Linked DNA regions of Homo sapiens. The protein of the gene in region 4 purifies or fractionates together with the protein of the main gene of each other region. This does not show direct contact. Each region holds a gene or a part of one and is shown on either strand. Other genes may lie near its edges. The genes, in order: KAT14, YEATS2, SIX4, KDM6A, ASXL1, KANSL2 and TFE3.

Evidence for each region.
Region 1: the proteins of KDM6A (region 4) and KAT14 purify together in Homo sapiens (affinity purification with mass spectrometry, with the first as the bait; one large-scale study listed by BioGRID). This does not show direct contact.
Region 2: the proteins of KDM6A (region 4) and YEATS2 purify together in Homo sapiens (affinity purification with mass spectrometry, with the first as the bait; one large-scale study listed by BioGRID). This does not show direct contact.
Region 3: the proteins of KDM6A (region 4) and SIX4 purify together in Homo sapiens (co-immunoprecipitation; one study listed by IntAct). This does not show direct contact.
Region 5: the proteins of KDM6A (region 4) and ASXL1 purify together in Homo sapiens (affinity purification with mass spectrometry, with the first as the bait; one large-scale study listed by BioGRID). This does not show direct contact.
Region 6: the proteins of KDM6A (region 4) and KANSL2 purify together in Homo sapiens (affinity purification with mass spectrometry, with the first as the bait; one large-scale study listed by BioGRID). This does not show direct contact.
Region 7: the proteins of KDM6A (region 4) and TFE3 purify together in Homo sapiens (affinity purification with western blotting; one study listed by BioGRID). This does not show direct contact.

What each region holds. Positions count from the first base shown.
Region 1 is NC_000020.11:18,182,863-18,185,698, reverse strand, and holds part of KAT14 (cysteine-rich protein 2-binding protein), read right to left. Parts: intron 2,577-2,836; coding exon 2,401-2,576; intron 1,098-2,400; coding exon 907-1,097; intron 1-906. UniProt on the Homo sapiens protein: Component of the ATAC complex, a complex with histone acetyltransferase activity on histones H3 and H4. May function as a scaffold for the ATAC complex to promote ATAC complex stability. Has also weak histone acetyltransferase activity toward histone H4.
Region 2 is NC_000003.12:183,774,297-183,777,796, reverse strand, and holds part of YEATS2 (YEATS domain-containing protein 2), read right to left. Parts: intron 1,883-3,500; coding exon 1,674-1,882; intron 256-1,673; coding exon 97-255; intron 1-96. UniProt on the Homo sapiens protein: Chromatin reader component of the ATAC complex, a complex with histone acetyltransferase activity on histones H3 and H4. YEATS2 specifically recognizes and binds histone H3 crotonylated at 'Lys-27' (H3K27cr).
Region 3 is NC_000014.9:60,717,852-60,721,351, forward strand, and holds part of SIX4 (homeobox protein SIX4), read right to left. Parts: intron 3,294-3,500; coding exon of another isoform or gene 3,272-3,293; exon of another isoform or gene 3,257-3,271; intron 2,595-3,256; coding exon 1,909-2,594; intron 1-1,908. UniProt on the Homo sapiens protein: Transcriptional regulator which can act as both a transcriptional repressor and activator by binding a DNA sequence on these target genes and is involved in processes like cell differentiation, cell migration and cell survival.
Region 4 is NC_000023.11:45,107,188-45,110,233, reverse strand, and holds part of KDM6A (lysine-specific demethylase 6A), read right to left. Parts: intron 2,825-3,046; coding exon 2,698-2,824; intron 156-2,697; coding exon 1-155. UniProt on the Homo sapiens protein: Histone demethylase that specifically demethylates 'Lys-27' of histone H3, thereby playing a central role in histone code. Demethylates trimethylated and dimethylated but not monomethylated H3 'Lys-27'.
Region 5 is NC_000020.11:32,368,331-32,371,830, reverse strand, and holds part of ASXL1 (polycomb group protein ASXL1), read right to left. Parts: intron 2,817-3,500; coding exon 2,708-2,816; intron 1-2,707.
Region 6 is NC_000012.12:48,665,239-48,668,738, forward strand, and holds part of KANSL2 (KAT8 regulatory NSL complex subunit 2), read right to left. Parts: intron 2,552-3,500; coding exon 2,455-2,551; intron 2,356-2,454; exon of another isoform or gene 2,219-2,355; intron 1-2,218. UniProt on the Homo sapiens protein: Non-catalytic component of the NSL histone acetyltransferase complex, a multiprotein complex that mediates histone H4 acetylation at 'Lys-5'- and 'Lys-8' (H4K5ac and H4K8ac) at transcription start sites and promotes transcription initiation.
Region 7 is NC_000023.11:49,028,226-49,030,791, forward strand, and holds the end of TFE3 (transcription factor E3), read right to left. Parts: intron 2,377-2,566; coding exon 1,933-2,376; 3' UTR 501-1,932; downstream 1-500. UniProt on the Homo sapiens protein: Transcription factor that acts as a master regulator of lysosomal biogenesis and immune response.

The DNA.
Region 1 (2,836 bases), on a different chromosome or scaffold from region 4:
TTGACTAAAAAAAATTCTAGGGGAAAAAAATCCTTGCATGTTTTTTGATGGTGATATATGGTGTATTTTCTTCAAAGGTGATACAAATATATTAAAGGATGAATTATAATTCAATACTAGAATCAAATCTTAGAAGGTTCATATCAGCCTTATACAGTGATAGTAAAATTACAAACTATCAGCAAAAATAAAATATGTAGCTAGGCACAGTGGCTCATGCCCATAATCCCAGCACTCGGGAGGCTGAGGTGGAAGGATTGCTTGAACCAAGGAGTTCAAGCACAGACCAGGCAACACAGTGAGACCCTGTCCCTACAAAAAATCAGCCGGGCATGGCAGTGTGCACCTGTGGTCCTGGCTACCCAGAAGGCTGAGGCGGGAAAATCACTCGAGCCCAGGAGGTTGAGGCTGCAGTGAGCTATGATTGTGCAACTCCAGTCTGGGTGACAGAATGAGACCCTGTCTCAAAAAATATATACATATTCTTATTGATACAGTTGTGCTAAAATGTTTACAAATATTTAAAAAAATAAAAATAATAGTCCTACCCTCACTTCTCTGAGTTGCGAAGGTGATGATCCTAAGAGCAGTAGCTACTACTAATATGAATAGTCCACCCTAAAGCTCTTGCTTTTGGTATTTTCTCATTTTATTTATACACATGTTCACAAACTGGTTTCTATGAAACCTGAGTCTGAATAATAATCTTATTTTAGAGGGTCGAAGATTTTTGACTGTGTGCTTTGATAACCTCATGAATGCTGATGACTGGCTTTCTTCACTTGGTTTACAAGGAAACCATTCCATTGGGCCATGCTGGGAAGGGCTAGCTCAGCTTCATTCCTCCTCCAGGTTGTTCAGGGGAGCCCAGACACAGGTGATAAATCATAAACATAGACAACTTACCTGAATCAGATGATAGATCATGAAAGTTGCAATCCCTGCTCTTCTCCATTCAGGGTGGACGAACAGAAATGAAATGTAAGCTTCATTGTATTTCACATCAGGAACCATGAAGCCAAAGGCAATGATGACTTTTTTATAAAGAACAACAACACTGAAGTCTGGGTACTGCAGACACTCAGACAGGTCAATGCCTAAAGAAAAGAAACCATCGGAGACTCAAACCACATGCCTTTGAGAATTAAGGAACACCAAGCTGTTCAGCATGTACATATAGCTACACCTGCATGCTAAAAAAAAAAAAAAAAAACACCAAAACTGGAGGTAACATAGAGACCACACAACCAGATCATAAAAATAAGAGTGAATTTTAGAAAATATTGAAATTACATAGTATTTCCTAAAAGAAGAGTGGCAGAATAGGGTAGGTAGCAGTGCACGGGTTCAGAATTGGACACAGCTGGCTTTGAACTCAGCCTCCTCTACCATGTGTGGCTTGGCACATTTCAAAATGTCTCAGAGACTCCGTTTCTGCAATATGTAAGATGAAGAGCATACCTAGACCTGACAGGGTTAAGTAAAGATCCTCCGAGCGTGTTCTATCACATCCTTTACCCCCCACACATATAATTTATAAGTTCTTTTGTACAAATGCTACCTTTCACAATAAATAAGTAAAATATGCTTCTGTGCATAATGTATGGAAGGCACCTAACATAAGGGCAGGAAGCAGGAGATGCTCCCAGAATGTTACTTTTGGCTCAGTATGACTCCCAAAAGAATGAGTGCAGCTCTGCCACCACATTCACAGTTATGTGATTATGTGACAATAAAGACGACACAGCTCTATCTTGATGAAATCGTATCTAACATCTGAAAGACATGTATTATTTCCTTTAGGTTTCAAGGCAGCGTGGGAAAGCAGATCCACAAAGAATAGTTTATATTTAGCAATGCAAATGTGTTCCTTTAATTAATGACTTTGGTCTTCAGAGGCAATTTTGTTAAGGCTGATAAAATGACAAATTATATTGGGTTTACCCTTATTCTCAGTCTGTGATCAGGGCATTTGGCTTTTAAAAAACACCTTCTGGCTGTACTAATACTCTCTAAGGAACAGCTAAATAAACAAAACATAAAGAATTATTAAGCCAAAAACAAAAGTGTCCAAACACGCCCAAGCTACCAGTCTGTGTATCTTTGATAGACATTACCTGGTATCTAAACATATGCAGAAGCAAAACAGGATGAATCTTTTACTCTGGAAACAGAGACAAACAGGGAAGAGAAACAAACAAAAACACTGTTTATTGCTGGCTTCTTCTAGATTTTGGGAAAGCAAGAGGTATTTGTATTTTAATATTTCCATGTTAGCAGAGACAAACTAAACGAAATCATAAATAAAAATCTTAAGGATATCACATAAACTAATTTTAAAAATTGCTAGAATGGACTGTACAGAAAAATGACCTGCCTGGTTTGGGAGGGGGAACATACCAGGCCAAAAAAACTCCTGACACATGGAGTTGATCGTTGGGATGTGATTTGGCCGCACATAACAGTAATCGAGAGGTGCGTCGGGCTCCGGCGTCCAGTGAGGGTCGCTCCTGTGCAGGTGGGAACGAATCTGTGACAGGAGCTGCAGTTTGGGTGGCTTTGTTTCATAATCACGCCTCCGGTACCACAGAAGATAAACAAATTCAAGTCAAGAAAAATACCTGGTATTATTCCTAGCTTTTTGACTCATATAAACTCTTTGATCTGCTTGAAACTTTAAAGTAACCTGCACTGTTTTACACGAAGCTGGCTTGATTACAGCTATACTTTTATGTATGAAATCTAAAATTCACTCTGAACATTCATCAGGCCAAAGCCCTCTGTACCCACCAGGGACTGTGCTAGGTGCCTTCATGAACAGTGAGGAAACAGATAC
Region 2 (3,500 bases), on a different chromosome or scaffold from region 4:
CTTAATTTCTTTGTGAAAAGAGAGAAACTACATGTAAATATGTAAATAAATGCCATAATCACCCCATATTTGGGGTGTGTGCATGGGCGTATTTACCTGTGTAAACAATGTGGTTTTCTGTCCAGAGATGACTTTTAGCGTTTGTTGTCCTTGTGCAGAAGATGTGCTGACTCCCAGTGTTCCTTGGACCACTGACCCAGTGGTGAGTTGTTTTCCAGAAGTCTGGGGTGATGGCTGGCCAACTAAAAATGTGCCCTAAGTTAGAAAAAAATATAAAGAACTAATCGGTAATTTGTTAAATTCAGATGGGCTGTTCTGATCCCTTAAATCACATGTAACGTCCCATGTTACAAGCTACAACGCTCTCCCCTTTAATTCTGCAATGTAGGCAAAATAATTCAAAAGAATAGTTGTGCTCTAAGTGTTACTTCCATTAGTTATCCCCACTTCTCAAACTTTGCACTGTAGTTACAGAGCAGCCTGTTGAAAACTCATGTTTTGCAACTTAGTCCTCAAAACTGGATTTAATCATTCAGACTGATATCATCTTTCTCAATAAGAACATCTGGAACCAAAATTCTATTACTTTCCTTCAAAAAGAGCCAAGACTTCAGTGACAAGAGGAGACGAGGAGGAAACCTGTTCCTAATCAAATCTAACTTAACTCTAAATATTACAACTTGATACCATCTCTTTGATCACTCCCTTCTATGAGCAACTTTTCAACTGTACATTAATACTGTTTATTACCTCATGGATTTTGGAGGCAATTAGCATAGTAGAAATCTTTAAGGCAGGAAGATCTGGGTTTAAACCCAAATTCTTTTCCTTTTTTTTTTTTTTTGAGACAGAGTCTCACCCTTTTCCCCCAGGCTGGAGTACCATGGAGTGATCTTGGCTCACTGCAACCTCTGCCTCCCGGGTTCAAGTGATTCTCCTGCCTCAGCCTTCCAAGTAGCTGGGATTACAGGCATGCACCACCACACCCGACTGATTTTTGTATTTTTAATAGAGACAGGGTTTCACCATGGACCAGGCTGGTCTTGAACTCCTGACCTCAGGTGATCTGCCTGCCTCGGCCTCCCAGAATGCTGGGATTACAGGCGTGAGCCACCGTGCCTGGCTTAAACCCAAATTCTACCATTGGCTTGGCAGGAAGATCCTGGATAAGTTACTAAAATCTTTCTCAATCTCTACTTCCTCTTCTCTCAAAGCAAGCAAAAAAGATAAAAACACATAGTTTTTTTTTGAGAAAGGGTCTCACTCTGTCACCCAGCCAGGGTGGAGTGCAGTGGTGCGACCTCAGCTCACTGCAGCCTCAACCTCCCAGGTTCAAGCAATCCTCCCACCTCAACCTTCGGAGTAGCTGGGACTGTAGACGTGCACCACCACGCCCAGCTAATTTTGGTATTTTTAGTAGAGACAGGGTTTTGCCATGTTGCCCAGGTTGGTCTCGAACTCCTGGGCTCAAGCGATCCACCCACCTTGGCCTCCCAAAGTGCTAGGATTACAGGCATGAGTTACCACACCCGGCCAAGATATAGATATAGATAACACGGTTAAGGTGTTAGTATTGAACCCTGATCCCAGAGCCGTAAAGGTAAATCAATTATAATTAAGCATAGTTATCCAATAGCTAAATGATTTAAAATATCAGTTACAGAGAACCAGACCTGGGGAGTTTGCTTGAGGATGTAAGATGTGTAAGTCAGGTGCTGAGATATCCCTCCAGGGCCAGCAGTACTTTGAGTTCCTCCTCCTGCTGTTCCTCCTCCTCCTCCTGTGCTGCCGCCTCCACCGCTGCCACTGCCGCCTCCTCCTCCTCCTCCTCCTCCTCCTCCGGCACCACTCCCACCACTGGCAGCTGAGCCAGACTGGAGATCTAAAAATACAATGAATGACAGCAACATCATAAAAAGTATCAAGCAAAGCTTTAGCATAAAAAACAAATGAGCCCAGAGAGATGTTTCCCTTTTAGTGCCATTCCTTCTTCTTTCCCATTTTCCTCCGTCTTTTCTGTAATCTACCTACCCTGTGACAAGAGTGAGGAGAACTTCCTAGATTTTAGATCAAAATCTATTTCCTTTCAACTGCATGACAACTGACTGTATTTCGGCTCTGAGTACAATGAAGATACTTTGACGTGGTCGTGGGAGATCAAGAGAAGGCTTGCTACTGACATTTTCTAGCCAAGTATTTTTTTGAGACGGAGTCTCACTCTGTCGCCAGGCTGGAGTGCAATGGCAAGATCTTGGCTCACTGCAACCTCTGCCTCCCGGGTTCAAGCGATTCTCCTGCCTCAGCCTCCCAAGGAGCTGGGACTACAGGCGTGTGCCACCATGCCCAGCTAATTTTGTATTTTTAGTAGAGAGGGGGTTTCACCATGTTGGACAGGATGGTCTCGATCTCCTGACCTCATGATCCGCCCGCCTTGGCCCTCCAAAGTGCTGGGATTGCAGGTGTGAGCCACTGCACCCAGCCTCTAGCCAAGTATTTTAATCAACACTTAAATGTGCTCAGCTAGGTGCTTCCCAACTTTTGGGCATCTGATTCAATGTCAGGGAATTGCTGGAATTTAGTGTAACTTTACAGTGCTCGATGTTGTCTCCCTGTCTCAGGAAAAATGAAGACTTTCCTTCATTTACAATGACTCCAGGACCCCATTCTTCTTTGCCTTTCAAATCCCACTTCAAAGCCTTGAAGTCTTTTTACTTCTCTTTTGGTGAGATAATGCATTTGAACTACCTGGACTATGAATATTCACTCAACAAATACTAACTTCCAATTTCCTTCTCCACCTTCATTCCAGTGATTATTGGAATAGCTTCCTTCCCAATGGTTTATTTTTGCACCAAGGATATCACAAGAATCTAAGTAGCTCCCTGGATGACTTCTGAAATATTTACATTGTCCTTTTCTTACACATTTAACTTTTGGACATACCACTGCTTAGGTATGAGGAAAAAACACCAAGTGAGAGTGGAACTGACACATCATGGTCAATGAACGCAAGGATGATGAGCTGACACACTGCATTTTGGCAAGGGCGGTTAACTTCCAATGACCCTGAATGCTGTACCCTTCTACTTCTGATTCAGAGGGAAATAATTTCCTTTTATCCTATCCTTTTCAACACTGCCCAAACGGTTTTTCTCTATATGTCAAAGCAAAAGTTTCTTTAACTGCAGATAAACTGCCTCATTTCCATGGGGCTTTAAGACTTACAAACCTAGGTAGAGTCTGTATTTCTCTTTCCATCTCCAAACCTAGCAGAAGTAAGGAATACATCCAAACCAGCTGTCCCCAAGCTTTGTGGCACCAGGGACCAGTTTCATGGAAGACAACTTTTCCATGAATTGGGACAGGAGGCGGGGGGTGGTTTGGGGAAGAAATTGTTCCACCTCAGATCATCAGGCATTAGATTCTCATAAGGAGCACACAACCTAGATCCCTCGCATGCACAGTTCTCAACAGGGTTCGCGCTCCTGTGAGAATCTGAT
Region 3 (3,500 bases), on a different chromosome or scaffold from region 4:
ACACACGAAGATTAGCCGGTCATGGTGATGCACGCCTGTAGTCCCAGCTACTAGGGAGGCTGAGGCAGGATAATCACTTGAACACGGGAGGCAGAGGCTGCAGTGAGCCGAGATCGCGCCACTGTACTCCAGCCTGGGTGACAAAATGAGTCTCCGCCTAAAAATAATAATAATAATAATAATAATAATCTTAGTTGCTCAGACTGTAAAGTGAGTAAAAGATGTAGATATTCTACTTTTCCACATAAATCCCAACTATAGAAAGATAAGTCTATCTTGTCAAGACATTTTAAAGAATGGCTCAGTATCTGTTTGTGAGAAAAAACTGAATCCCCAAAATGTTTTATTGAGAACTGCAATACCTAACTACCATAGAAATGTTGCTTACTGGATTAAACTTAACTATCTGGTTAAACTTAGACTGTCTGTTCAACTCACCCAGACAGTCTAAGATTTGATCTTACTTATTTTAACTGAAAATGCTATTCTTATTCCTATTAAATGTCCCATTTAAAAACTCAGCTATTAGTTCATAATAATTTTCTATGGCAGTGCTCCTCTAGATTACACAATTAAAAGTATTTCTACTTTTCTCCTCCCCCAACATACATAACTCATTCTTTCTGCTCAAATTTGTTGCCTTTAAAATGTGACCTGTTTGGAAATTTTCCAAATGAGAGAAAAGGGGTTAGATCCACATTAAATTATTATCAAACTAAGCACTTTGGCTTTCCCTGTGGTTTTCATATTTTTGCCCTATGTTAGATAGTAACTTAACTCTTTCCATAACTTGGAACAATGATGAACTGAATAGTATGCTGCAGGAATGTCTTGTTTTAGTACCATTTTGCCTAAAGAAATGCAAATGTACAGAATGAAATTTAGAACAATTTTTCCATTAATTCCTTCAATAAGCTGACATAGACCATAGTTGTGGTAACAAGAGAGTTGTGCATAAATTGATTTTTTTGGGGGGGTGGTAAAACCATCTTATAGGAAGCAGACCTTTAAAGCCAACAATTACTACTTTGGTTTTGTAAAAATCTGGATTTTCAGATTTGTCTACAAGAAGGCAAACGTGCATTAAGATCTACCCTTCCTGAATTCAAGGGATTATGCAAACTCCACTGCCAAATTCTAACCATTTCTATTTCTTTAAAGAGAAAATGACATAGAGGATCCAGGCTTGCTTAAAGTCAGTGAAGAACTAATATATCAGCCTCAGTTTTCCTGAATTTCATTTAAGTGCTTTCTCTGGAAGATTGCTGTTAGTAAAGCCACAAACATATAAAATAAGGCTTACTATTATCTTCACAAATAAACCCACACATTTAGGGGGTTAGTATATATGCTGAGCGATAGAAATCCAATGGCATATTCCTCTGATTTTCTTTTAGGTCTGTTAGTCTTCATTATAGGAGGAAACAGGATTCAAACATAATTGATCCGGTCTTTTTAGCTTGTTCTTCTAAAACATTTTTTGGTCAAATAAATAATGCTTAGGTAAAGTGTATGCATTCTTACCAACTGCTAGACTAATTTTGTGTTCTTAGCAATTTTATTAATTTTTAATATTAAAATGCCAAGCAGTGAGTTATTTTGTAAGCACTGATTGACTTATCATATTTCTGTAATTGTAGAACTGGCAGGACTTGCTATGAACTGTATTTTTCCATTCAGTTGTTAGTAAAATAAAAGCCCATCCTCATGATGCAAGGGAATAAAGCAACCTGGATATGACATGGGTATTGTGAAAGAGGAGAATCACATCAAGGCTACTCTACAGCTTCGGCAGCTAATAAGGTACCTGAACAGAAACATCAATCTATAGCTATCACCAAATGCGTCACTTACAGCAGCTGATGAACACATTTGCTGGTGCATTAAGGTACCAAATGAGATTGTTACCTTGTGAAGCTGCCACTGACACAGGGGGCAGCTGCAGTGGAGAGAATCCAATGCTCCCATTAAGGAACTGGCTGTTTGCTCCGGAATTGGGGATCTGGACAATGCCATACTGGTTAATTTGCACTGGTGTAGTAAAAGTCACTACAGACCCTCCATCTTGGGAAGCCACTGTTTGAATGCCTTCTCTTTTCACCTCAGTGCTGGGTATCAGGCCTGGGAATGAGACAGGGACACTGGGGCTGTAGGACGTGGTGGTTGCTGAGTTAGCAGAACTCTGGAGGACTTTGAATTCCTTCACGTCCTGGGAAGTAGACCCCAGTATGTCAGTCATGGATATACCATTGCTCACAATGTTTGATGACATTTTTGGTGGGTTCAATGCCACTGCCTGTGTATTTCCCACATTTAATCCATTAAGGATAACTCCACTGGGTCCCTGAATAAAAGAATTTCCATTAAGGAAGACAGGTGAAGTACTTGCAGGTACCAAGCTTCCATTCAACAGAACTCCAGAAGAGCTTAATGATATCTTAGCATTTCCAATTTGTTGCATATATACTGGCTCCATATGACTGGAAAGGCTGAGGTTGGTGATGCCATCAGATGAACTGGAGAGTGGGTGAGGAGATAAATCCTCATGTCCCTTGCTGGATTCATCTTCAGTGCTGGGGTTGCCATCTGACTCACTGTATGGAGGGGGAAATCAAAATGTTCAGAAGGTCAGGGGGATGACATTCTACACAGTGCCACTTGTTTGGAAAACCAGCTTCTAAATCCATTAAAGGCAGTATTTAAGGAAAGCACAGCAGGATATCTGCTAGTCCTATTTAAACTAAGAGGCCTTTCAGCAGATTCCGACCAGCCAGAGAATCTGGGAAGATAAACTCTCAGATCCCAATCATTTAAAATAACAATAAATTCAGGGAAAGTCCAGACATCTGCAAGATGTAAATTCAGCATTACAGGAGAAGAACATATTTGATTTTACAGTGTAGAAGTGCTATTCCTTACTGTTACATATGCTGCTACTGACACCATAGAAAAAAACACCTTAAATGAGGTGGTCGGTCTTTCCTGTTTAGGAACTCCTTCCCCTCCCCTCAAACCAATTCAGATTAGTGTTATCTTGGAGGTAAATGAAGCTGCCAAAGGAGCAGGAGGTAGGAAGTGCTCAGCTTTTCTTTTTTGGTCAGTTAGTTAACAAGAGATCGTTTTCTCACCTGCTCCCAAACTTCTACTCCACCAGACTGACAACTCTCTCATTCAACAAAGTGGCTGTCCTTGTTGTAGGAAAAGGCACTTTCAACCCAAGAACAGTTATGTGCAGTCGCCTTTGAATCCAAAGGAAGCCAAAGGGGCCTATTTAACAAACACCATCCAGTGCCCTGGTGAGGTGGGAGGGAAAGGGTGTCACTCAGAGGCCTTCTAACTATTAGACCTCTTCCCCAACGTCCTTGGTCCCTCTGTTCCAGGCAGGACCCTGTTCCTCAGCTCTCTGACTTGGGAGAAATACCAAATCGGGGTTGGGGGGTGGGTAGTGATGGGGTTTCCCATTTGGTCTGAGGCTGGGAGGGAGAGCAAACGAGAGCAGA
Region 4 (3,046 bases):
TAGACTTGCATCAGGTCCTCCATTTTGTACTGTTCTAGCACCACAAAGTTTTCCAAGTTTCCGCTTGTTTTTCGTGCACAATCTTGGCAATGTACTATGTAGGTCTTTCGTGAATTACTCTCATTAGTGACAAAAAGCAGATCAAAAACCTCCACCTGTTTTATACAAGAGAAAAACGTATTCAATAGAGATAGTGGTATTTACTGTACTGCTTTAGTATAATCATGGAATTCTACTTGAATGAAATTGTGGACAGTGATCTCTGGTTAAGAGTAGGTGGTAAGAAAAACATGGCTGTGTTTGAGAATCTTTAACAGACCAGGTTTATTTTGCACCAAATCCAAAGACATGGGTAGTAATGCATATTTAGGGGAATAATCAAAGGGAATGACATACTCATGACAACCACTGGCAAAGCCCAGTTCAAAAGTTTGATAAAGGTCAACCTATTTTTAAATCTAAAACATTAGTATACAATCAGACATAAGTGATCATTTTTATGTATTCATGAGTACAGCATGATTTTAGAAATAATACCTCTATCTTATACAGAAAGATTGATGAGTTGCTAGGGTTCAGGTAGGATAAGGAACAACACACCTAACTGGAATCTATCTGATCTCCTAATGACTCACTTTGGTCAGGCCATATGACATTTAAAAAAAAAATCAATGGATTCTATCATTTCAAATAAAGGTTGATGCTAGAATTACAGAATTTCAAGGTTTGAAATGGACCATCAACATCCTGTCTTTGGCTTATCCTTAAATTTCTTCAATGACAGAAAACTCTTATGATCCCATGTCTTCTTTTAACAGTTAACTACAATCCTAGAGTTCACCATGTTATCCATTACTGTCAACAAGCAGCAATACAAACCTAGTGACCTGAGCTAGAAAATTGGTGAGCATTCTTCAACTTGTCCTTCCACTTCTGCCATTTAATGAGGTGTCTCGCTGATTTTACCCTCTAAATATTTTTGAATTCTTTCCCTTCTTTAATATTCCCATTGCCAGGTTCTAGTCTAGGCCTTAAAATAACTTTTTTTTTTTTACAGGTACTTTATTTATTTATTTATTTATTTATTTATTTATTATTATTATTATTTTTTTAAATTATACTTTAAGTTTTAGGGTACATGTGCACATTGTGCAGGTTAGTTACATATGTATACATGTGCCATGGTGGTGCGCTGCACCCACTAACTCATCATCTAGCATTAGGTATATCTCCCAGTGCTATCCCTCCCCCCTCCCCCCATCCCACAACAGTCCCCAGAGTGTGATGTTCCCCTTCCTGTGTCCATGTGATCTCACTGTTCAATTCCCACCTATGAGTGAGAATGTGCGGTGTTTGGTTTTTTGTTCTTGCGATAGTTTACTGAGAATGATGGTTTCCAATTTCATCCATGTCCCTACAAAGGACATGAACTCATCATTTTTTATGGCTGCATAGTATTCCATGGTGTATATGTGCCACATTTTCTTAATCCAGTCTATCATTGTTGGACATTTGGGTTGGTTCCAAGTCTTTGCTATTGTGAATAATGCTGCAATAAACATACGTGTGCATGTGTCTTTATAGCAGCATGATTTATAGTCATTTGGGTATATACCCAGTAATGGGATGGCTGGGTCAAATGGTATTTCTAGTTCTAGATCCCTGAGGAATCGCCACACTGACTTCCACAATGGTTGAACTAGTTTACAGTCCCATAACTCTTAAGACCACTGCAATAGCTTATATATCGCTGTCCTTTCCAACCACTTTTCTCCCTGAAACACATATCTTACTTACCCTTAGTTGCCTGCTCAAAACCTTTTAATGGCTTCAATAACCTTGGAATATCAAATTCCTTAAAACCATTCAAGATGTGCTATAAATTAAATGCCACCTAGACTTATGAGCGGAATTTGCACAGTCTGTGTTCCAGCCAAATCGGAACACATTCAACCTTTTCTAAAACCATTTCATTTCCCTGTTCTCTTCTTGTGCCTATAGCCCATGACAGTCTACCTCCGATTCTCATCACTTTTTTAGTCTACTTGATATCATACTCTTTTTTCCAAGGATGGACTCAAATGCTAATACGTTTGTGAGTTCTTATGCCAATACTAGAAGAAAAAATTAGGTCATTTTCCCCCTCAGTGTTATCATTAACAGGAAGTCCAACTTCACATTCATCATAGTCTCATGTACATTACAATTAGTTGTTTATAATCTGTCTGCTCCAAGTAGAATTTAAGCTCCTTCATAGGAGGCACCACATCTTTGTTCCTGCACCTCTTGCAAGCCTTGGCCACACAAGATTGACAAATGTATTGTTAATTGCACCAGAGAGGACTGATAATCGATCTGCCTAGAGTTACACCAAACATCCAGTTTATTGGCATCTGTGTACATCTAGATTGTTCTTAGTTTAAAATCTCAGACTAAATTTGCTGATTATTGTCTGTTGAAGATCTACCACAAAAATGACTCTGCAGTAGATACTTTTAAGGTTAATTCACAGTGAAATATCATTATTATCACACTGAATTTTAATATAATGGCTAAGCAACAAAATTGAATCCAATGTTAATTACTATAAACTGGATTACATAAAAGTATAAAAAAGTTTTTTAAAAATAAAGAGAAACCAACAGTGGAGAGGGAAGAGGCTTTATAAAACAACTGTGGATAAAAACAATTACTTACTTCACAAATGCTACAGTAATGAGCTGGTTCTTCTTTTGTCCGCCCATGCCATATAATCTCTTTTCCTGCAGCAATGAGAGCTTCCCTCAATGTCTGACATTGCTTCAGAGTTCTTAGAAGACAATACCTATTGTGGGGGAGAAATTATTTGTGACCAGCAACTGAATATTGAATATTTTTAGCATAAAAGATATACCAACTAGAAATAATGCCAAGAGACTTGATTCTAATGTCTATGACTTCATAATTTTTCTTTCATCAATTTATCAAATATTCTCAGATTTTAAAATGACAATGCTCAGCAGGCCTGATGAAGACAATATTAAAACATTTAAAGTTGAGAAAAGTA
Region 5 (3,500 bases), on a different chromosome or scaffold from region 4:
ACTTGAGGCCAGGAGTTTGAGACCAGTTTAACCAACATAGCAAGACTTCATCTCTAGGAAAAAATTTAAAAATTAGCTGGGGTGATGGTGTACGCTACTCGGGAGGCTGAGGTGGGACTACTGCTTGAGCCCAGGAGTTCAAGGCTACGGTGAGCTATGATTATACTACTGCACTCCAGCTGTGGACAACAGTGTGAGACCCTGTTTCTAAAAATATAAATTAATATTAAATTAAAAAATAATAGGCCAGGTGCAGTGGCCCACGTCTGTAATCCTGGCAGTTTGGGAGGCCAAAGCCAGTGGATCGCTTGACCCCAGGAGCTCGAGACCAGCCTGGGCAACATGGCAAAACTCCTTCTCCACAAAAAATACAAAAAATTAGCCAGGCATAGTGGTATGCGCCTGAAGTCCTAGCTACTCAGAAGGCTGAGGTGGGAGGATCACTTGAGCCTAGTAGGTCAAGGCTGCAGTGAGCTGTGACTATGATACTGCACTCCAGCCCAGGTGACAGAACAAGACCCTATCTCAAAAAATAGATAATATTAATAGAAAAATGCCATTAACAGGCAATTAAGAATGATAAACCTCAGATCATCATAAAGGCTATCATTTATTAAGGACTGACTCAATGCCAGGGATGCATATTCCACCAAAAAGAAGGGTTAAATCCCTCCCAGGTTACAAAGCTAAGTTTTTGTTTTGAGACAGGGTCTTGCTATGTGGCCCAGGCTGGAGAGCAGTGGTGTGATCACAGCTCACTGCAGCCTCCATCTCCAAGCTACCCTCCTGCTTCAGCCTCCTGAGTAGCTAAGACTATAAGCACACACACCACCACGCAAGGCTTTTTTTTTTTTTTTTTTTTTTTAATAGAGACAAGGTCTCATACTCCTGAGTTTAAGCAATCCTCCCGCCTTAGCCTCCCAAAGTGCTGGGATTACAGGCATGAGCCACCACAGCCGACCACAAAGCTAGGTTTTGGGCTCAGTGGCTCTGTCTCTTCCAAGGCTCGATTACAAGAAAAGCATACAAAACTGAAAGGAAAAAGACCAAACTATTGGATATAAAAAAATATAGAAAACAGCACAGACATCTGACCCCAAGATAAACTTTATTTATATATAAAGACCAAGTTTTATGGCTTCATGTTATATAGTTGGTATTTGTTCAGGTATTTATTTTGAATACAGTCCATCAAGAAAACAAAACTTAAAGGAAAAAGTTTGTACTGACTGCTAAAATTTATAACCCACTATGGAAGAACGAAAGGGTCAGCATCAAATTTTCAGTTTCTCCAATGTCGACAAGTCATCTTATGTCTAAATCAGGGGTCGACAAAGTACAGCCCCAAATCAAATCTGGCCTGCAGCCTGTTTTCGTAAGTAAAACAAACATTTGTAAATAAATTTTTTTTTTTTTTGGAACACAGCCATGCCCATTCATTTGGGTATGGCTGCTTTCCTACTACAATGGCAGACCTGAGTGGTTAAGACAAAGACAGTATGATCCACAAAACAAAAAAACATTGATTTTCTGGTCCTTTACAGAAAAACTTTGCAGACCCCCGGTCTAAATGATTACCATATATATCACAAATGGTGGAAAAATAATTAGCCTGTTCATTTCGGCCCTATTTAAGCTTTATTATGAACTCTACCTGATTTAAGTACTCTTACTTTATAATTACTGTCACTTAATTTCCACAAATATGTTCACATTTCAGTTATTTTCCATAGAGTAGGTCTTACATTAGCTGACCAGTAATTTATCCTTCACATCATTACTACAACAAAATCCTAATTAAGGCACATCTGTGGCCAGGTGCAGTGGCTCACGCCTGTAATCCCAGCACTTTGGGAGGCTAAGGCGGACGGATCACAAGGTCAGGAGTTCAAGACGAGCCTGGCCAACATGGTGAAACCCCGTCTCTACTAAAAATACAAAAATTACCTGGGCATGGTAGTGCACTCTTAGCTACTCAGGAGGCTGAGGCAGAAGAATTGCTTGAACCTGGGAGGTGGAGGGTGCAATGAGCTGAGATCGCACCACTGCACTCCAGCCTGGGCAACAGAGTGAGACTCCATCTCAGAATAAAAAAAAAAAAAAAAAAAAAAAGGCACATCTGCAATTATCCCCATAGTTATGCTTCAGTTTTGTACAATCTACAAAGATATAGACAAGAAAAGATGAACACACAAACAAGAGCTGCTATGACTAAATAATTTCTAATATCTGATTCATATTAGAACACCTCAAAGTGCCATTTAGAACCAACAGCATCTGGCCAGGTGCGGTGGCTCATGCCTGTAATCCCAGCACTTTGGGAGGCCGAGGTAGGTGGATCACCTGAGGTCAGGATTTCGAGACCAGCCTGGCCAACATGGTGAAACCCCGTCTCTATTAAAAAAAATAAAAAAATTAGCCGAGCATGGTGGCATGTGCCTGTAGTCCCAGCTACTTGGGAGGTTGAGGTGGGAGAATCACTTGAACATGGGAGGCAGAGATTGCAGTGAGCCGAGATCTCGCCCCATTGCACTCCAGCCTGGGTGACACAGCGAGACTATGTCTAAAAAAAAGAAAAACATCAGTGTCACCTGACTGCATATGAGAAATGCAAATTCATGGCCCCTATTCCAGACCTACCAGGTGATTTTTATGCACATTAAAAGTCCAAGAATCACTGCACCAAAAGAGAGTTCATATCACTTACCTTGAGCGTGAAAAGGCTGATTCGGCCAGGCAGTTTATAAAACAACCCCTCTCCTCCTCTTGAATTGGAATGTAGCATAGCATTGAGGCATGCGAGAGGGGAAGTCCCACTGTAAAACCACAAAAGAATGGATGAGGGTTATACAATCCATCTGCCTACTTAAAGACCTAATCCCTCCAACTCATTCTTAAATGAGAAGAAGCTAAGCAAGAAATACAGAAGAAAAAATCTCATGACAATTTCACTGTGAAAATAGTAAAAGAATAACCAAATGAAATTCACATAAATCACACTCAGAAAACTCTGGAATAAACATTATGTGATACCCGAAATCCATAACTAACACTTCTTCAGTGCTTTTTGACAATATAAATCAAATTTCCAAGAAATTTAGAAAAACCTCACAATTTTTTCAAGTTATATTTTAATAAGTTAATAAATTTTTAGTAAAATTTTACTATTAAAAGTTTCCTAGCCTCTATATTTCAATCTACATATCATACTCAGAAACTGCCACAGAATACTATGACAAAGAATCACAGAATCAATGGTGCTGTGCCAATAAAACAAGCAGAACTTTTTTTCCAGTTAAACATTTTCTAGTAAGTACACAAAAAGAACAGTATTTCATTTGTTTTTTCTCTGCTGGAAGTGGGGAGATTGAGTTTTATTCTGTATCTACCCAGGAACAATTATTTAAACCTAAATGCAAAAAGTAAGTCAAGTGGATTTAGTTCCCAGTAATGCTTAAAAAATAAACTGAAACAATGGCATACTAAGTTGTTTCATGGTC
Region 6 (3,500 bases), on a different chromosome or scaffold from region 4:
AAGAAGAGGTTCTCCTTCTCCTCTCCCTATTAAAGAAAATAAGTGGCCGGGCGCTGTGGCTCATGCCTGTAATCCCAGCACTTTGGGAGGCCAAGGCAGGCAGATCACAAGGTCAGGAGATCGAGACCATCCTGGCTAACACGGTGAAACCCCATCTCTACTAAAAATACAAAAATTAGCTGGGCACGGTGGCAGGCACCTGCAATCCCAGCTACTTGGGAGGCTGAGGCAGGAGAATCGCTTGTACCCAGGGGAGTGGAGGATGCAGCAAGCTGAGATCACGGTACTGCACTCCAGCCTGGGTGACAGAGTCAGATTCTGTCTCAAAAAAAACAAATAAAGAAAATAAGTTTTAATTTCCAAATATTTGGCATTTCTTGCCAAGCAAATGAAATCCAGCAATCCTATTTAATTAACAAGTGCTTTTACTGCGAAATTTTTCTCAATGCCTATAATAAATAAGCACTTTCACAATTCAATCAACAACTCAAAAAAGTTTGAAGGCCCAATGCCAAATGTAGTCCTTTAACAGAATCAAGAGACATTATGATGGTTCAAAGGCAAATTAATTGAAAAGAAGAAAAAAAGCATCTCATTTTTGGAAATAGCAAACTTCTAATTTGAATGATGTTTAAAGTATGCAAGTTAGAGGCCAGGCACAGTGACTAAGTGTTATCACAAAAGAGTCAAGAGACTGGGCATGGTGGCTCACAACTGTAATCCTAGCACTTTGGGAGGCTGAGGCGGGAGGATCACATGAGCTCAGAAGTTCGAGACCAGCCTGGGAAACATAGTGACACAACCTCTCTACAAAAATTAAATAAAATTAGCTGGACGTGGTAGCACATGCCTGTAGTCCCAGCTACTCTGGTGGCTGAGGTGGGAAGATCGTTTAAGCCCAGCAGATCACGGCAGTAAGCCATCATCATGCCACTGCACTCCAACTTGGGCAACAGAGTAAGACTCTGTCTCAAAAAAATTAAAAAAAGAAAACTTTTTAAAGAGCCAAGTTTCTTTTTTAAGTTTATAAAGGCCAGGTACAGTGGCTGATGACTGTAAGCCCAGCATTTGGGGAGGAAAGGACTGGCAGACTGCTTAAGCCCAGCAGTTTGAGACCAGCCTGGGCAACATATTGAAAATTGACTCTACAAAAAATAAAAAAAAAAAAAATAGGCCAGGTGCAGTGGCTCATGCCTGTAATCCCAACACTTTGGGAGGCCGAGGCAGGCAGATCACTTGAGGTCAGGAATTTGAGACCAACCTGGCCAACATGGTGAAACCCCATCTCTACTAAAAATACAAAAATTAGCCAGGCGTGGTGGCACGTGCCTGTAATCCCAGCTACTCAGGAGGATGACACACAAGAATTGCTTGAACCCAGGAGGTGGAAGTTGCAGTGAGCCGAGATCACACCACTGCACTCCAGCCTGGGCGACACAGCGAGACTCTGCCTCAAAAAATATAATTAATAATAAAATAAAATAAATAATTAGCCAGGCATGGTGGCACACATACATAGTCCCAGCTATTCAGAAGGCTGAGGTAGGAGAATTGCTTGACCCAGGAGTTAAGGCTGCAGTGAGCTATGACTGAGCCACTGCACTCCAGCCTGGATAACAGTGTGAGACCCTGTCTCAAAAAACACAAATAAAAAAATAAAAGCCGGGCACAGTGGCTTACTCCTGTAATCCCAGCATTCTGGGAAGCCAAGGCGGGTGGATCACCTGAGGTCAGGAGCTCGAGACCAGCCTGGCCAACATGGTGAAACCCCATCTCTACTAATAATACAAACATTAGCCAGGTATTGTGGTACGTGCCTATAATCCCAGCTACTCGGAGAATCGCTTGAACTCGGGAGGCGGAGGGTGCAGTGAGGTGGAGGTTGCAGTGAGCCGAGATCACGCCATTGCACTCCAGCCTGGGAGACTAGAGCAAAACTCCATCTCCAAAAAATAAAAAATAAAATAAAATACAGAAGTGAGGGCCCTAACCACACAAAAGGATAATACTAGAAGTTCACAGTGCAAAATCATCCTTTCAACTGGGGTGGAAAACCCACAGTAATTTTTTAAGTTTATAATTAGATTTAACAGCATTAGGATCCTAATAAGCAAGTTAAATCAGAAACCTTGAGACAATTACAAATATTTTATGTATATTTTGGGACCCAAGTATTAAGGCTATAAATAAATATTAGCCCACATCTATGAAAAACGACTCATGTTTCTTTCTAATGAATTGACCATTACATTTCCAAAGTTATGAAATGGCCAACAGACCATAGAAAGACAATTCTTTAGGCTCCTGCTTGAAACCAACAGCTTCAGCAAACTGCTGGCCTTGATTCAGGGCCAAAGGAAAACAAAATCCTTCAATTAAGCAAACTAGCACAGAGATTCCCACTAGTCTTCAAACTAGCAAACCACAGCCTTAACAGGCAGAGTAAAAAGATACGGGTAAGGCAGTGTCTGGTCATTGGAAGAGACTGATTGGAACAACGAACATCATCCACAAAGGCCAAGCACCTCTGACTGGAACGAGTGGTATGGGCCTGAAATGGAAAAAGACAGATAAAATAGACCCACAAAAGAACACACAAACAATTACGATGAAAATAGTTATATAAGAAAAGCACATCCTAAAGGCTAGAAATTCAACATTTAACAAAAATAGATTCACCAATATTATGCAAAAGACAAAAAACTTTAAAACCTAGTGCATAAAGAATGAGTCAACCTCAATCCCAAATACACCTCTCCATATTCTAAAAGTGTGATATAGCCTATTTAACACAAATTTTGTCTTTTACCAACAGAACTCTGAAATTGCAGCCTTAAGTGGAATCTCAACAAATGAAACAAAATTACTCTTACTGAAACAGAGACCAAGGGTCTGAAAAACAAATTTAAGAATGATCACTTAATTCTTCTTCCTATTAACCTTACTTCCTGACATTCAATTGCTCCTATTCTACCTTCCCACCTTTTAAAACAAGATTCCCAAGCAATTTAGGATTAACCTGTGCTTATTTCTGAACTGAAGAATATCTGAACCAAGGACTTAGAAACTTTTCCCAACTACTCAATATGCAGATGAGAATACTGAGGCCCAGAAAATTTAAGCTAACTGTGCAGACACAGAGCTGGTCAGTGGGGACTCACACTAGAATCCATGTCTCCTGACTTCAAGCTAAGTGCTTTCACTATAACCCATGTGCAAAAAGTCAGATTTCAGATCCAAGACTGGACATAGGGAGTTCAAGACCAGCCTGACCAACATGGAGAAACCCCGTCTCTACTAAAAATACAAAATCAGCCAGACATGGTGGCACATGCCTGTAATCCTAGCTACTCAGGAGGCTGAGGGAGGAGAATCACTTGAACCCAGGAGGTGGATGCTGCGGTGAGCCAAGACGGCGCCATTGCACTCCAGCCTGGGCAACAAGATTGAAACTCTGTCTCAAAAAAAGACTGGACATAGTGTTTTGACAATTACTCTAA
Region 7 (2,566 bases), 3.9 Mb from region 4:
GTCCTTTCCACCATCTTAAATACCTCTGTTGTCTGCCAGGAAATATCCTCATAGACTTCTTTATCAGTTTCAAAAGTGGATTTGCAAGAAAAGCTTCTTTCCCCCTCTGCCCTCAGTGGCATTTTTCAATCGAGCCCTCACTCACCTGACTTTACTGTTTTACCGCCTCACCCATTTACAGGCTTGCATATCTTCAGAACAGTTCAATTCTATTCCTCAGCTTCTTCAAAGACCAAATGGAAGTAAGAAGCAGCATGTTCTGACTAACATCCCTTTAGAGAAATAAATTAGATGAAACACTTGCAGCAGTTAAAATTGTGCCTGGTGATTGGTCTTTAAAAATACTGTCTTTTGTTTGCATATTGTCTTCCTCCATGCCCTCTTCCTTTCTAAATTCTTTTATCCATCCTTCTGGAATCTGTTTCTCCCAAGGACTTTTATCCCTCTTGGCCTGCATGGGCTATGTTCACTGCACAGTGTAAAACAAGGACAGGAGACTCTTTGCCAAAGTTAAAAGCGCATCAAACACGCCTAGCTTTTATTATTTTAATCACAAACCTATAGACCCCTCAGTATACCCTCCATGGGGCCTGGCCCCAGCAATCCAAAGCTGACAACCTTGGGTGTAGGTATGAGGGGTGGGAATGGAGGGGGGAGTGTCTCTTGATAACTCTGAAATGGGGTGATTCCTCCAAATGAAGAACTGGGTGGGGAACAGAGGTTGGGGTGGCCTAGATTCTCAGTATGCGGAGCAATAAAAAAATCAGATAAACAAATGAGGGGGTACAATATGCTTTTACAACCCTCCTCCAAGCTTCTGCCTTGCTGGGGGAAGGCTTCCAGTTTTTCCTGGGCTGGGGAGGTCCCAGGATAGCCCCTTCCTTCATCCTCTTGCCCTACATGTTGAAAAAGAATACTGAGGTACTGGTTCTGGTAACCTGAACTCAGTCCCCCACTAATACCCATCACCTTCCCAAACTGCCCCTCAAGGAAGAAGGCAGGACTCTGCCCAAGGGTGGGGGCCTCTCACTCCAGATATAGGTCTGGAAAATTCATCCATGAAATTTCATAATCTGTCCCCTTCCCCAAGAGCAAGGTTGGCTCAGAGCCCTCCTAGGTTAGGTCAGGTTGGTCCCAGGTTAAGGCAGGGGAGCTTAAGTACCACTCCTCCCTGCAGTGTGGAATGCTTAGATGGGATGTTGCTGAGGGACAAGGGTGGGGCTGTGATCTCCACAAGCACTAGCGGTGGCCTGGTCCTACTGATTCTTTCACACCTGAAATACCTGTGCTGGGCTGTTCCTATAGGGAAGGGGTGGGGCCTGGCTCCTCCATTCCTAGAAGGCCAGGAGAGTTCCCAGGGGAAGGGGCTGGGTCTCATCCTCACTTCTGTTCCTTGCCTGGGCAGAGCAGGGCAGGGTTCATGGGGAAGGGGCAGAGCTTAAACCCCCAGGGCTGGGACCTCCATTACTTGACTCCTCTTCTGTGCCAGGACGGACTAGACTGGTGGTTCCAAGACAAAGGATGGAGCAACATCCTGACATCTCCCTTTCCCAGGAGACCTGGCTAGGACAGTCCCTAGGGGACAGGGTCGAGACCTCATCCTGTCTCCTTCCCTCACCTGGGCAAGGATGAGTCCCACAGGGGCAGGGGTGAGGCTGTGATCCCCAGGGGGCAGGCCCTGATCTCATGTCCTTCTCCAGCCTTCTCCTTCTGAAATACCTGCACTGGGCGGTTCCTTTGGGGAAGGTGCAGGGCCTCATCTGACTCCTCCTCCTTGCCTGATTACAGGGGTGGGGCCTGATCACATCTCCTCTTCCCCCAGGATACCTGGGCAGGGCAGTCTCATGGGAGGGTGGGGGAAAAGGCGGGGCCTCATCCTGACTGGTCCTCCTTTCCTGGGTGGGAAAGTCCCAGGGGAGGGGTGAGGCCTGATCAGGACTCCTCTTCCATGCTGAAGCTGCTGCGGCGGCTGCTGGCCTTGGAGACAGCAGGGGACACTGAAGAGAGCAGGGGATCGGAGGCAGCCCGCAGTGGGGACAGGGCACCCCCCGACAGTCCTCCCACCACCCCCTCCTCCTCCTCCATCAGAATGTCCTCCAGCCCCAGGTGGAAGGGGTCTCCCAGGTCCCCCAGGTGGTCGCTGGGAAAGTGCAGGTCCAGAAGGGCATCTGAGGGCGGTGCAGGGGGCTGCTGATGGGGAGCATTCTGGGCAGGTCCCCCCCCTACATGGAACGTTGCTGCGCCTGGCCTGCCCTCCTCCTCAATGTCCAGCTGCTCTGGCTTGAGGCTGTCAGAAGCCGAAGTCGTGGCCAAGGAAAGCAGCCCTGGAGTGGGAGGTACTGGCAGGCCATGGATCTGGGCCTGCAGTTCTAGTTCCTGTAAAAAATAGGGGTTGGGTGCAGGATAAGTAGGGTTCAGAGTCCCTCAGAGGCAGAGGAGTATAAAGGTTGAAAAGGGTAGGTTCCCTGGGTTGGAATTCAGCTTCTGCTACTCACTAGTTCCAAAACTTTAGGCAAGGTGCTTAACATCTCTGAAGCTTCAGAGTCGCAAACTGTAAAGTGGGTAT